Homo sapiens: one gene and its partners. The protein of the gene in region 1 purifies or fractionates together with the protein of each later gene. This does not show direct contact. Each region holds a gene or a part of one and is shown on either strand. Other genes may lie near its edges.

What was found.
Region 2: the proteins of STX16 (region 1) and SCFD1 purify together in Homo sapiens (affinity purification with mass spectrometry; one large-scale study listed by BioGRID and IntAct). This does not show direct contact.
Region 3: the proteins of STX16 (region 1) and STX18 purify together in Homo sapiens (affinity purification with mass spectrometry; one large-scale study listed by BioGRID and IntAct). This does not show direct contact.

The regions. Positions count from the first base shown.
Region 1 is NC_000020.11:58,660,291-58,665,471, reverse strand, and holds part of STX16 (syntaxin-16), read right to left. Parts: intron 1-5,181. UniProt on the Homo sapiens protein: SNARE involved in vesicular transport from the late endosomes to the trans-Golgi network.
Region 2 is NC_000014.9:30,631,347-30,636,070, forward strand, and holds part of SCFD1 (sec1 family domain-containing protein 1), read left to right. Parts: intron 1-2,600; coding exon 2,601-2,691; intron 2,692-4,724. UniProt on the Homo sapiens protein: Plays a role in SNARE-pin assembly and Golgi-to-ER retrograde transport via its interaction with COG4. Involved in vesicular transport between the endoplasmic reticulum and the Golgi.
Region 3 is NC_000004.12:4,535,297-4,540,020, reverse strand, and holds part of STX18 (syntaxin-18), read left to right. Parts: intron 1-4,724. UniProt on the Homo sapiens protein: Syntaxin that may be involved in targeting and fusion of Golgi-derived retrograde transport vesicles with the ER.

The DNA.
Region 1 (5,181 bases):
AAACCTGGGTCGGCTGACTCCAGAAACCCCTTCCACCCTCAAAGGTGCCAATCACTCCACAGGCCCATAAACTATAACTGCAATTTGCTAAGAAAATGAATCAAGACAAGCCATCAGATTAAAACAACAAAACACAGTAGTTTGATTCATTTCCCACCAACTACACCAGGCACTATAGGACAGGCCGCCAGTGAGTGACGTTAGTGTCAGTAAAGATCATCCTCTCTTACTGACCATCCGTGGACAGAGAGGCGCAGACCTCACCCTCTACAGAGCAGGCACAGAGAGGGCCTGTGCCAAGCACTCAGAGGCAGACTTGTTTATTCCTCAACACTCCTGCTCCAAAGTCACCAAGAGGTACACAACTCTGTGGAGGACACACTGACTAAAAAGCAGGGGGACAAACCACAGGCCCAGCTCGCAGCACCTGCCAGCCATACATCAGGTGCTGTCTACAGTATTGCTGGACTGGAACAGAACTTGAACTCCAGCTGTTTATACAAAGTAAAATCTAAAATTGCTAAAGGACCTCTTCATGGGTCCTAGAATTTCCACTACACCAGTTTATTATCGAATCCACTATATTTTATTATTACACATTTCAATCAGTAATTATTTATAGTGATTTTAGAGTTTTTAAGCTCATGATCTTATTTTGTACTGTTTTTACTGTTTACAAATACACATTAAACTAAAGAAGACAGAGAGATGGTATCTATCTAAATTTACCTGCATTGGGATTAGTATCATTTTATCCAAAACAACAAATTATAAACCACATATGAAAAGTCGGTTGAAGTGAATACAACTCTTTGAAGCAGTACTTGATTTTATGCATGTGTTCCCCTCAAATTAGATGTAAATCAAAAGTGGGGAGAACACACTCTTTGTTAAGGGTCCTAAGGAAGCTTGCTAATTAGAGATTCCTACATGAACAGCATGGATGCCAGCCTGCTCAGCTGGTACTAGCTTTCCCACACATTGTATCAGAGTTTTGCCAGTAAGATAGAACAGCTGATTCTTTGGGAATGAAAACTTTAAATAGCGAATAATTTGTCTCTTTTATGATACAGTCTATAGCTATAGTTCATTATAATAAAGAAACACCACCCTATTGAGAAGAAATGTGTCATTTCTTTTAGCAGTATGGATTTGTAATGTGTATCACAGTATGTACTATTAAAAAACAAGACAGTATGTTTTGGGAAGGGAAAACAATTGTTGAAGATAAGCGTCAACTATTTGAAATGGGAACAAATATGGACATAAACAAATTTTATGTGCAACATAAGCACCCTTTTAATTTCAGAAACCTCACTTTCCATTTAAAAACATGTCTTCTTATTGTTGAAGATCCAGCATATGTATCAATTTTCAAGCTGCCATCCTATTTCATACAGATCTTAAAAAATGGCCAGGTTTCTAATTCTCTCTCCTTACCCTTACTGAATTTCAACATGGTGCCCCCTCCAAATATATGATGTTGGTTTGTGCAGCTGGCCATGGTGGCTCACGCCGGTAATCCCAGCACTTTGGGAGGCTGAGGCAGGCGGATTGCCTGAGGTCGGGAGTTCAAGACCAGCCTAGCCAGCACGGTGAAACCCCGTCTCTACTGAAAATACAAAAATTAGCCGGGCATGGTGGCATGCACCTGTAATCCCAGCTACTCGGGAAGCTGAGGCAGGAGAATCACTTGAACCCGGAAGGCAGAAGTTGCAGTGAGCCAAGATCGTGCCAATGTGCTCCAGCCTTTTATTAAGACAGAGCGAGACTCCATCTCAATACATAAATAAATAAATAAATTTGTGCTTCTGAAGTAAAAAAAAAAAAATCCATATTTTTTAAATAAAAATTGTACTTAAGAGAATTAAGAATTCTTGCCTCTTTGATATGTAGTTCCTCTCTCCAAGAACTACTGGGGTCCGCTACCCTAACCTAGAGCCATCCTTCCTGAGAGAAATGCAGAAAAAATCCAACAGATGTTCAAAACAGCACACCCAATGGCTTTCCTGCCAGTCTCACTAAAGGTATCTTTTGCCTTTGATCCACTTCAAATGTTGACATTTGTCCATTTAAAGAGTACCAGCCAGTATGGACAAGTTCTCCATCTATGGAAAGAACATACACATTCTCTCTTATAAATCTTGCTGTTCCAAATCTATGGCCCTCCTACTCTTAAAAACCCTGCCTTTCCCTGAAGGCTGATTTAGTGTAGACTAAGATTACAGAAATAGCAAAGCCTCTGTGGAGATTGGAAAAGTCAGCTACACCTCCTCCCCATCTAAAAAAATCAACTAAGTTTAGCCGTAACGCATTGGTAATGAGAACAATACCGATAATTCTGGACTGTCTATGGCAATGAACACTTGGAAAGCCCAGAAGGGACACTGAAAATCAACAGACTGGCAACTCACACTTCCACGTGAAACTCTGGGAGCCTGTATGATGAAGTCAGACTACTTCGCTAATAGACAATTAGGCTTAAGAAATCCGAGTTGTTGGAGAAGTGAATAAGCATGTGGATAAAAGAAAAAAGTGATGTCAGCACTACATTTTTCTAAACCCGTAATAATTTTAAAATAATGCTTACCTTTTCTAATTATGAAATTAGTAAATGGTCAAAATAAATACTTTTAAAATGGCATAGGATGACGCAGTGGCTCACGCCTGTAATCCTAGCACTTGGGAGGCCAAGGCAGGCGGATCACTTGAGCTCAGGAGTTCGAGACCAGCCTGAGCAACATGTCAAAACTCCGTCTCTACTAAAAAATACAAAAATAAATAAATAAATAAAATAGCCACGCATGGTGGCACGCACCTGTAGTCCCAGCTACTCAGGAGGCTGAGGCAGGAGAATCGCTTGAACTGGGGAGGCAGAGGTTGCAGTGAGCCGAGATCGCGCCACTGCACTCTAGCCTGGGCAACAGAGTGAGACTCTGTCTCAAAAAAATAAAAATAAATGATACAAAAAATATAGAGATAAAAACACTTGAGAATCACATCACCCTGATACTGTTGTTAAGTTTCACTGATTTTCCTTTTTTCTCAACTAACATACATACTCTGAGGGGAAGAAAAAGGAGGGGAGCAATCCGTCCCTCCCTGCCTTCTGTGAGCACTGTACTGAGCACTGCTACTGACCTGGCCCATGCCAGTCCCAAGAACAATCCTTCAGAGGAGCGCCGCTCCCTATTTCACCAACATGGACACTGGGGCCCGGCCCAGGCACTCCCAGATGTGCAGTCCTCCAGGCAGTGTGGTTTGGGGGCTTGACATTTGTTATCTTGTGACTTTTAAAATAATTCTTGAGTTTAAAAACTCCCAGAGATTTCTTTGTCATAAGACAGGAAGTAGATTAAAGACAGAGAACAAAGGAGAGGGCCAGACACTTCCCTGGGTAAGAGAACCAATGGTGGGCTCGGGTCCTCCTCAGGGAACACCTTACTTAGTGTTTTCTGAGAAGGAAAAGTGACATCTCCAGGGTACTCAGGCTAGAGGAGGAGAATGACAATCAAACATGGACAGACTGCAGGAAGCCTCTGAAGTGAGGCCGTCAGATGCCTTTACTCTGGGAGATGCAAGTGATATTCACTCAGGGACATTTGCTCAGGCCTCCCCTATAAAGGGGTGGCTAACATCTAATCCACTCTGGAGCTGGGTGTTCACTATTTCCAGAGATGCCAATGTGAGGCCCTGCGTCAGCTTCAAAGAAGCCTCTGGACACTGTCCCCAACCACACCCCCTGCTCCTAGGCCAGTACCTGGCACTTCAGAGTCCTGAACGCACAATCACAACCAGCTGAGTGATCCGACAAGAAACGAGTGGAATGAATGCACGAGGTAAATAAAATGTACGTCACAGACAATTGTGGAAGCCACACTTCATGAAAAAGATAACGGCACTGCACAAAAGAGCAAAAGAGGCAAGTGAAACGCACAAGGAAATGAGGTGGCCGTGGGCACCCACGATGAGGCAGCAACCTGCATTTCTAATAGCACTGGGGTGAGCGTGGAGGAGATAGTGCTCTCTACGCAGGGCCTCTGATCACAGAGCGTGAAGACTCCCTTTTAAGCCCTTAGAGGTGAAACATAAGAAAAGCAAAAGGGCCTGCCAAGTTCATGCAGTGAGTAGCCAGTTTCTGGAACTTGCTGCCTGAAAAAGGAAGTAGGAAAGACTGGAAATCGGTTCAGACAGCAGACCCCGAAGTAATTATGACCACTTATGTGCCCCTCCTTGGAACATTATTCAAATGGTTCTTCAACCTAAGTGGTTCCATAATTTGTTACCCTCCCTCGCATCCTATACACTTCCTTTTGAGGTCATAAGCTCCATATCTTCAAACTGTTCAGCCAGTAGCAACATCTATTTTAACTCAGAACGCCTGCTCTCCAAGCCCCCAAGCCCTCTCCAGGGCCCCGTGCCCAGGCGGGGAGCTGGCAGTGAGGTTCCTGAATGGGAAAGGAAACCCCCACACAGGCATGACCATGACACCTGGCTCAGTCAGCTACCCGTTGAGTGGTGTTTTTTTTTTTTAACTAATTGTTTTTAGTGGCAAAGTATACATGCACATGGTTTAAAAATATATATCCACCCTAAGAAAAGGGTTTGCAATAGAAAGGAAGTTTTCTATCCCAGATGTTTCTTGGGGTGTATCCACTGTTAACAGTTTCTTGTGTATCTTTTCAGGAATTTTTTAAGCACACACAAGCATAAATATGAGTTATTTTTCCTGAAAAAAAAAAAAAAAAAAAAAAAAAAGGAGCAGGAATCATATTATCCATGCTGCTCTGCATCTGGGTCTTTCCACTCCGCCATGTGTCTGGGGCTTATTCCACTGCAGCTCTCATGGATGGGCCTCACTATTTACCTGTTACAGAGGGTCAGAGATGCTACACAATATATTTAACCAGTTCCCAATGAAGGCTATTTAGGCTGTGCTCAGTCTGTTGTCATTATCAACTAGTTAAGGTTTTTAGAATATATAGGTAGATCTGAATCTACTAGTTAGGACCCCACTGGTTTTAAGGACAGTGATCCTCCTAATCCTACTTTACTATTCATACTTCTAAATGAAAACAAACAAGAACAACCCTCACCTCTCCATCACTCTACTTAAAAGGTCTATACTCAGGAAAAATATTCTTACCCCTTCAATGCTGAAACAGACAATAGACACAAACA
Region 2 (4,724 bases), on another chromosome or scaffold:
TGTCTCAAAATTTAAAAAAAATTAATTAATTAAAATAAAAATAAACTGTTGAATATCTCACGTAATTTATTGACTGCAGTGCTGAAAGTTGAAAACAGAATGTTTTTATAGGTGCTTAAAATATGATTTCTATTGAATATGCACTGCTTTTGCACCATCATAAAGTCAAAAAATCCTAAGTTGAACCATTGTAAGTCAGGGAGTGTCTATATTTTTTTAAAAAAAAGGAATATCTAATTAATCATTAATATGAAAAATTTAAGTGACTATGAAGTAATGACTGTTAATCACCATAGTGGGCTATCTGTGTTGTCTTAACTGTTAAGTTTGTGTGATTATATTGCTTCTGATATGTTTAATAAAAATAAAACAAATGCAGTACTTTATGGGCTTGCCTAGTAGAACATTTGGAGAAGGGGCCAGGCACAGTGGCTCATGCCAGTAATCCTAGCACTTCTGGAGGCCCGGGTGGGCGGATCACTTGAGGTCAGGAGTTCGAGACCAGCCTGGCCAACATGGTGAAACCCCGTCTCTACTAAAAGTACAAAAATTAGCTGGGCATGGTGGCGTACCCACCTGTAATCCTAGCTACTTGGGAGGCTGAGGAAGGACAATTGCTTGAACCCAGGAGGCAGAGGTTGTAGTGAACCGAGATCGTGACACTACACTCTGGCCTGGGCAGCAGAGCAAGATTCTGTTGAAAAAAAAAAAAAAAAAAAAAAAAAGAACGTTTGGAGAAGGACTGTGTTCATGGATAGATACTAATACTTCTGTATACTAAAAGAGTCCAATTTTATGGTGTTCTAAGCTATTTGCATTTTGTTCTATTTATGATGTTATAACCAATTTTTATGATATCATATATTGAATTGAAATGTACTCTTACTGGGAATATAGTTTTAGATTTTCGATAAGTAACTTGACAGAATCTGGTTTAATCAGCTCAAATTCTTCAGTTGTATAATGAGCATTTGTTAATAGACTGTTATAGTTTGTCAATTCCAAATGTCCTTTTTTACATTTCTGAAATTAGGATCTATCTTATCACTGATGATATGTCATAACTGGCAGCATTTTTATTTCTCAGTAGTATATAAAATATATTTTAAAAATTATGTTTTAAAATTGTTACCACCTTGGGTTTCATGAAATACGGTATTTGATGAGTTTTCCTTTCATTTTTATGTCAGACTGAAATAAGCAGGTTTGCTTTGATAATGTGTTAATTTTTATGGACTGAAGTAAAGTTTAACTTCATGCTATCCTTGGAAATTGTGGTTTATTAATAAACATTGAGTGCCATTGTCTCTGTACTAAGTGTTTAACTCCTTTATTTACTAATGGAAGGACTGAAGTTTAGAAGGCTTAAGTGATTGTCTCACATTTGTACAACCAGTTAATAACAGAGCCATGGCCACATTGCTTGACCACTAATTCTGTGCTGTTTATCTACTGAACTGTAATGGCTCAGTAACAGTAACTAACAGAAGTGAGGCCTTACTCAGTACTTCATTCAGGGGTAATAGGATAGTCTACCAGTTTGAGAGTCTCGTAATCTCTGCCTAACTTGCTACTTGCCACCAGAGCATGGAAATATTACACAGCTACCATGGTGAACTCTTGTGTACTTTGCCTCCAACCATTCTCCTCTATTTGCTGGAGAATACTGTATCAGTTACTTTATACCCTGCAAGCTGGTTTAGGCTAATTTGTAGGAAACAGTAATTACAAGTTTCCACAGTATGAAATGGTGGTTGTAGCCCATTAGACAGTTGGACAAGCAGTGTGAAAAAGACCACAACCTATGGCAGCCATCACATTATCATTCTTGATATCAGTGGCAACAGTTATTAAACACAGACTCACTGGCAGCATGTGCCTCTTTCCTCTCTCTCCTTGATTATAGAAGGATGACTAGAGAGAGGTGAATATTCCTCATATAAGCATGGTTTGATGTTGGGATATTTGTATGGAAATTGTTCCTAAATTGTAAAAGGAGAAAACTGTAAAATGACTTAATCTATAAGATGCTTACATTCTCTTATGAAACAATAAATAGACAAAAATAGATTGTCTTTAATTTTTAAGGAAACATTTATATACCTTTCATTTAAAAAATATATTTGATTTCATGTTTGGTTAAATTTTTTTATAGCTTCTAAAGAATTGCTTCTAAAATTTTTTTCATTGCGTCCCCTAGCTTTCTGATTTTCCCCTCAGAGAGCCACACTTTCCTCACATTCACCCTTCCCCTCTGACCACCACATTTCTATGAAAAGTGGGAATAAGATTGATTCTGAATATGTTTTAGTTCTCATTCAAGGAGAGTGTTGGTAGAAAAGAATGTCTGACCATAAGCAGTGCTAAAAGTGTGAGCAGAATAGAACAAATGAAGACTAACAAGAAATTAGGGTCTTACTAATGCTAATAAATAATAACAACACTGACATGGGAGAAAGATAGGTTAACTCACTGATTAATTGCAACAAGAGCTTTTAGAGCACTGGTTACTGTCCTTGAGCTAGTGAACTCCCATTTTGAGGAATATTGTTTTAAATAAGTGAATAAAAAAATAAGTTTTAGTTCCTTATGTCTTCTAGGCTTTTACACTCTGATCGAGATCCTATTCCAGATGTTCCTGCAGTATACTTTGTAATGCCAACTGAAGAAAATATTGACAGAATGTGCCAGGTAATATGGGTTCTTATTTTCTGGACTCCTGAATTTGGAAATGGATTTTTTTTTCAAGAAAAATTCCTAGATGTCCAGGGTGAAAAATCAGAAATTCCTATGCCTACTTTCTCACTCTGATTTTTGAGACTATCTTTGAATTCCAAATAGCCTGAAAGACTTAAAACTTTTGGCTGAAGAAGTATTATACAGTAGTCCTCTCATGTCCACAGTTTCACTTTCCACAGTTTCAGTTATCCACAGTTAACCAGGTACTGAATATATTACAGTATTTTGAGAGACCACATTCATATAACTTTCATTACAGAATATATTTTCTGTAATATATTTCATTACAGAATATATTTTATAATTGCTCTATTTTATTTCTAGCTATTGTTGCTAATCATTTACCGTGCCCAATTTATAAATTATAAATTAAGTTTTATCATAAATATGTATGTATAGGAAAAAACATATACGGTTCAGTACTACCTGGTTTCAGGCATCCACTGGAGTCTTGGAAAATAACCCCTGCAAATAAGGGCAACCACTGTACTGGTAAAGTCTGAGTCTGGCTTTAACAAACAGAAAGCCTAGGTATATTGCCTTTCTAACTTATATAGGGTTTTCCTTTTCTAAAATAAGGGTGAGATTAGGAAGTCCACACTGGTGCAGAAGTACTATAAGGTAATCAAAGACCCAGGCTCCTTCTGTCGCTGATCATTCGTCTTTAGTTTGTTGGTTTTCCTTGTCTTGCTTGTCGCTGCGCCTGTAGGCATCAAATCTATGTTCACATCAACAAGAAGAGGGACATGGACTGTGCCAGCCCTGACTGTTGATTTTGATCAGGAATTTAAGCCTTTCCAGAAACTCCCAGAAGACCTTTATTTATTTCTCACTAGGTAGAATCAGTTACAAGGGTGGCTGCAAAAGTCAATATTTAGATGAGTCACCCCAAAGAAAATCTAGCAAGATTCTTTTAGCAAGGAAAAGGAGAAAAGTAGATATTGGATAGGTAAGTAACAGTGTCTTCCACAAGTCACAACATCTTTGTTATTGACTGTTGAATCAAATTGCTATTTAAATTGTTAGTGACGTTTGCAAATTTTGTGTCCTGTGTAGCTTTATGATGCCCAGCTTTCTCTTTTACCCTGCGTAAACTCAAGTATGCTATTCATGAAAGAGGTACCACTTGCAATCTCTTCTTCTTTCATTATTTAAATAACACCTTTATTGAAATTATAATTTACATACCATACAATTCACACATTTAAGGAGCACAAGTGTATGGTTCATTGGTTTTTAATATAGTCACAGAGTTTTGCAACCATCACCACAGTCAATTTTAGAACATTGTCATTACCTCAAAAAGAAACCTGGTACCATTTATCACATCCTCAACCCTCCCCCATCCTCTTCCATCCCTAAGCTACCTTCTGTTTCTGTATATTTGCCTACTCTGACCATTACATATGAATGAAATCCTATAATATGTGGTCTTTTGTATATGGCTGATTTCTCTTAGCATAATGTTTCCAAGGTTCATCCATATTGTAGCATGAATTGGTACCTTATTCCTTTTCGTGGCTGAATATATTCCATTGTATGGATGTACGAAATTTTATTCATCCTTTTACCACTTGATGGACATTTGGATTGTTTCTACCTTTTGGCTATTAATAATGTTGCCATAAATATTCATGTGCAGGTTTCTCTGTGGACATGTTTTCAATTCTCTTGTGGCCGTAAACACATAGGAATAAAATTGCATGGTCAAATGATAACTCTATGTTTACCTTTTTAGTAATAGACTGTTTTGCGAAGTGTGGTTGCACCATTTTATATTCCCACCAGTAGTGTGTGAGGGTTCTGATTTCTCCAGATCCTTGCTGAACACTTACTATCCGATATTTTTATTGTAGCCATCCTAATAGGTTTGAAGTGGCATCTCATTATAGTTTTGATTTGCATTTCTGTAATTAATGATATTAAGCATCTTTTAACATGCTTATTGGCCATTTGTATGTCTTTCTAGAAATATCTATTCAGAT
Region 3 (4,724 bases), on another chromosome or scaffold:
TTTGTAGAACTGTGGTATGAATATCACAGTATTGGCTTTTTAAGGGTCCCTTCTAACTCTGAAACCACTGATTTATTAACACTGTGCTAATTTTGAGTCCTGCTCAGGGAAAGGGGGGATTTGGGAATGGTAGAGACAGGAGGCACAGTTGGGTTGGCAAGCCCTTTGGAGAGCCCTGTGATCACTTCCACCTCTCCCTGAGTGGTGAAAATGTGTTTGAGTTTTGAGTTAATGGGCCTCAGGGACAGTAACAGTCCCATAGGGTGCTGAGTTCCCTGTCACTGGAAGTGATTAAACAGAGTGATGACTGCTTTTCAGAGATGTTTGAGAAAAGCTTTGTGCATATGTCACAGGGTTGGACCGCATGACAATGCAACTTGCAGTTCTGCTATGTATTGATGTGAGTAGGTGTCACATCACCTTAAGTGAGTTCATGGGCTGTGTTGTTCAGGGACACTGTCCCCCTGACGTAGAGGAAACATACATTCTTTTAAGCAATTTTGATTTTATGTTGTCATTGCTTTGTGTATTATCTCCTGTTCTTGCAACCGTTCCCCACTCCCCATCTTCTCTTGTGGGAAGTTTAACTAGAAGAGCTAGTGATGGATGTCCTGTGCTTTTACTACAATTAGATGTCAAAAGTTTGGCTGTTATTTTGTTTGGCCTGGATTCCTTATAGAGAAAAGTCTGGTAAATACCAGAAGCACATATTCTAATTCAGGTTTAGCCCTGGTTGTCAGACTTAATGAAATGTAATAAGTTATAGTATGCCTTTTGGTAAGTGCCTTCCTTGAAGCATTTGCTGTTACTTCTAGGATGCGTTTTATCTGGTTCAATTTCTATTCTTCCATTCCATTCCTCAAATATATGCCTGATGCCAGATTTCCATCTCACTGAATTGTTGTAGAGGTTATATTAAGTTGAATAAAATTGCATTGAAACTGCAATTTTATTGCAGTCCCTACCTTCCAACAACAGGCTGATTGCTTCTGCATCATTCTTTTAAACATTTAACTTTTATGCTCAATTTTACTAAATTTATATATACTCAAATGCATGTCTACCCATTAAATTACAAATGGAGAGTAACGACTTTTCAGATTATTTGGGGGAGGAACTTATATTATTCGAACAACTCCAAATAATAATGAATATGTCACTCTGCAATGGGAATTTGATTAGTTAACTCATTTGAAGTGTGGGACTAGTGAGGATGATGGGATTGGAAAGAGACCTGGGCCTTGGGTTCAAATCTCGCTTCTGCTACTTAGAAATGGGTGAACTTGGGCAAGTCTGACTCTCGTTTTCCATTTCTATAAAGTGGACGTGATAATACCCTACTTAACTCACAAGCTAAGTAGGGTAGCTTCTGAGTTACCCTACTCACATAGTCTATATGTATGTATTTTAAAAAAACAGACTGATTATTATTGTTCCCCCAAACTACCTCCCCCCTCCTCATGTAGGCCATTTAGACATATTTTCTTTAGTGGCACCAAGCTGTATTTTCCAAACCACTTAGTTTTCTTGCACTTTCATTCCTTAATTTAGTTAAGTGCGTGAGGAATGAGTGAAAATCCTGAGCAGGTACTGATGAATCAGCGGTGGTGCAGAAGTACTGTCTGCATTCGTAAAAGATGGTAACATTTCTTTGCCAAGGTGAAACTCTTTCAGTGATGGCAGATGTGTGGCAGGTATGCAGCTTTTACTTTCTTTTCTTCCTTGTGATCATGGAAGCCAGTGCTAATTTCTTAGTGGATCCCTATAGCTCAGAATCCTTTGCAACATTGTACCCCAGGAGCCGTTACCTGTTATTAGGCTTGACATTCAAGTTGAAATCTACTTGACATATAGTAACAGTAGAATCTGTATGCTTAAAGCAGACCCATGTTTGTTTGTTTGTGGTTTTTTTTTTTTTCACTCAAAAGGACCTTGTGTTCATTTTGTTAATAGATAAGAAAACTAACACCCAAATAAATGAAATTACTTGCCCAAAGTCGTAGCAGTTGAGGTCATAGCACAGAGCCATAAGTAGAAGCCAGGTCCTTTGACCTGGTTTAATGCTGCTCTCCCTCTGCCCACTACATTCTCCTGTAATTTTTAAACCAGAATTTGTTTGGTTTCTGAATGGCAGTGAGTTTCTTCTTCTTGAGTTAATTCTGAATACTGCATACTGAATGGAACCTGGGGCAGAAAGACTTGGATTTGAATGTGTCTTATCTGTTATATGAACTTGGGGAAGCCACTTAATTTCAGTTACCTTATGGCTAAAATAGAGTGAGTAATAGCAACCTTATAAAGTTGTTAGGTGAAATAAGAAAAGGTATGCAGGTGCCTACATGAGTCCGAGTTCTTTTGTTTGCAAGTAATAGTAACCTAATGTAAATTAACCTGAACAAAGTGGGAATACCTTAGCTCATATAACTGGAAAATTCAGGGATAGAGCTTCTTTCTCTAGCTCTTATCCATAAAGCCCAGGAAGGAAATCTAGTTGGTTCTGCTTGATCCTCTGCTCTCTCTTACAGTAGTCATTATAGCCAGAGGAATGTTTCTTTAATTGGTCAGGTCTATGTCCACCTCAATCTGTGGTTAATAGGTGGCTTGGATGCTATGTAGCCCCCACCAGAATCATGGAAAAGGCAGTGCCCTGTCTGGGAATAGGGAGTAAGGAATGTTGGGCAAGCAAAAGCAACAAAAACATCCCTCACAGTGCCTGGGACAGTGCCTGATGTGCCTTCACCTTGCCTGCCTGGCTGTCTTCAACTCTGTGGGGAATGAGAAACTAGAAAATGCAGGAGTTTATAATGACAGGTTCTGGGGTGAGGATAGGCCTAGAGATGCCTCATAGTGGCAGCTCTTCTATTCTCTTACTGACTTATAAAGGTTACAGGAGCCAGGGGGGGCTACCACACAGGTAAGCAAGAAACCCGTAAGCACCGAACTGCTGTGCAGAGGCAGCAGGGGCTACTGAAGAGCACCGCACAGGAAAGCAGGAACCCATGTTCTAGCCGCAGGTCTGCCAGTAAGTGGGCTGCTCATGTGATTTCTCTGGGCCTCAGTTTCCACATTAGTAAAACTGAAAGCTTCGATTAGATAACTGCAGAGATTTCTTGTAGAATAAGGACACTTTGATTCTAAATAAGGTAATAATGATCCTGAATTGCTGGGAACTCTATTTTCAGATTAGGCATGCAGATGAGATTTTGTTCTTGATAATACATTCTTTTGTGGAAGCTAAACTTCGTTTTTTATTTACTTATTTTTAGGAATTGATTATCTTGAATCTTTGGCTGAAATTCAGAGTTCTTGGAGTGGCCCAAAGCCAGATGATCTGGCCCTGCTCCCTCTCTGGCCTCACCTCCTCTCCCCCTCCTTTTGCTCACTCTACTCCAGCTATTCTGGCCTCTTTCATTTTCTCACATGCATCAGGCACATTTCCCGCTTAGAACCTTTGCATCCCTCTACCTGGAACACTTTTCTCCTAGATTCCATATGGCTTGATCTCTCAGTTCCTCAGGTCTCTGGTTAAATGTTGCCTCCGTGAGGCCTTCCTTGAATGCCCTGCGTAAAGTGGCCTCCTTTTTCTGTCCCTTCCCCTAGCAGATCATATATCCATTTATTTGTTGTTTGTCTACTCGAATATATGTTTTCTGAAAATGAAGAACTTTGTGTTGTTAGCACTGAATCTGTAGCTTCTAGAACAGTGTGGGGATGCAGGTGCTTAATAAATACTTCTTGAATTAATGAATAACTGTTAATCTACTGTCTCTCTCAGTTTTGGGGCTAGGTGATCTCTGTCCAAGGCTCATTGCAGTTCTAAAGCTCTGTGATACTCACATGATTCTTGAATATTACATGATGCACATTTATACTTAGTCCGGTATTAAGAGTAAACATTCAGTAAATAGTAGCTTTTATTACTAAGATTCCGTTCCTCCCTCAACACATTTACATTCTAGTGGAAAAGCAGACACAGGTAGCACAACAACTCAGGTATGAGTAACAACTGTAACTTTTTTAGCATTGATTCCCCAGGTCCTCCTTGATTTCCTTTTCAGAGGCAGTGTTGACTTTCTGTGCCAGTGTTGGGACCCAAAGGTTGAGCTGGGACCACCTGGATTATAAATTTTACCTAAGGGTTGAGTATAATCATAGTTAGGGGATTTCAGTTGAGGGAGCATGATTCAAAGAAGCAGTATCATGCAACAGGTACAGTGAGTCCATGAGAGGCAGGAAGGACAGGAGATAGGGCCAAACCATACAGAAGTAGGATTGGGAAACAATGGAGGTTTAGAATGCAAGCTGTGAACAGAGCATGAGTGTGCTGAATCATATAGATTTCTTTTTAAATATGGCAGGAACCTTTTAGCTAATGAAATAAGGAGCAGCTTTGGTAAAAGCTGGAGTGAGAGGTTTGGGGAGAGAGGTTCATTCGCCAGCCTACTACCCTTCTGTTACCTTCCCCCTCTCCTTGAGGAACCCCTAGGAACCAACCAGAGGGCCCAGAGACACACAGTTTAAAAACCACTGCTTTAATGCTCTCCAGGGCCTGTTTTAGCTTCATGATGCTGTGTTTTTATGGATTGCAATAACTGAGTGTGTACTATAAGGAGAGCTCAGCACTGCAGAGTTTTCATGAGATTGTGAGTCCTTTGTGTGGATTACACTTCTGAATTTTGCCCAAGACTTAGGAGGACTGTAAGTTTTGAAATGTATTTATTCAA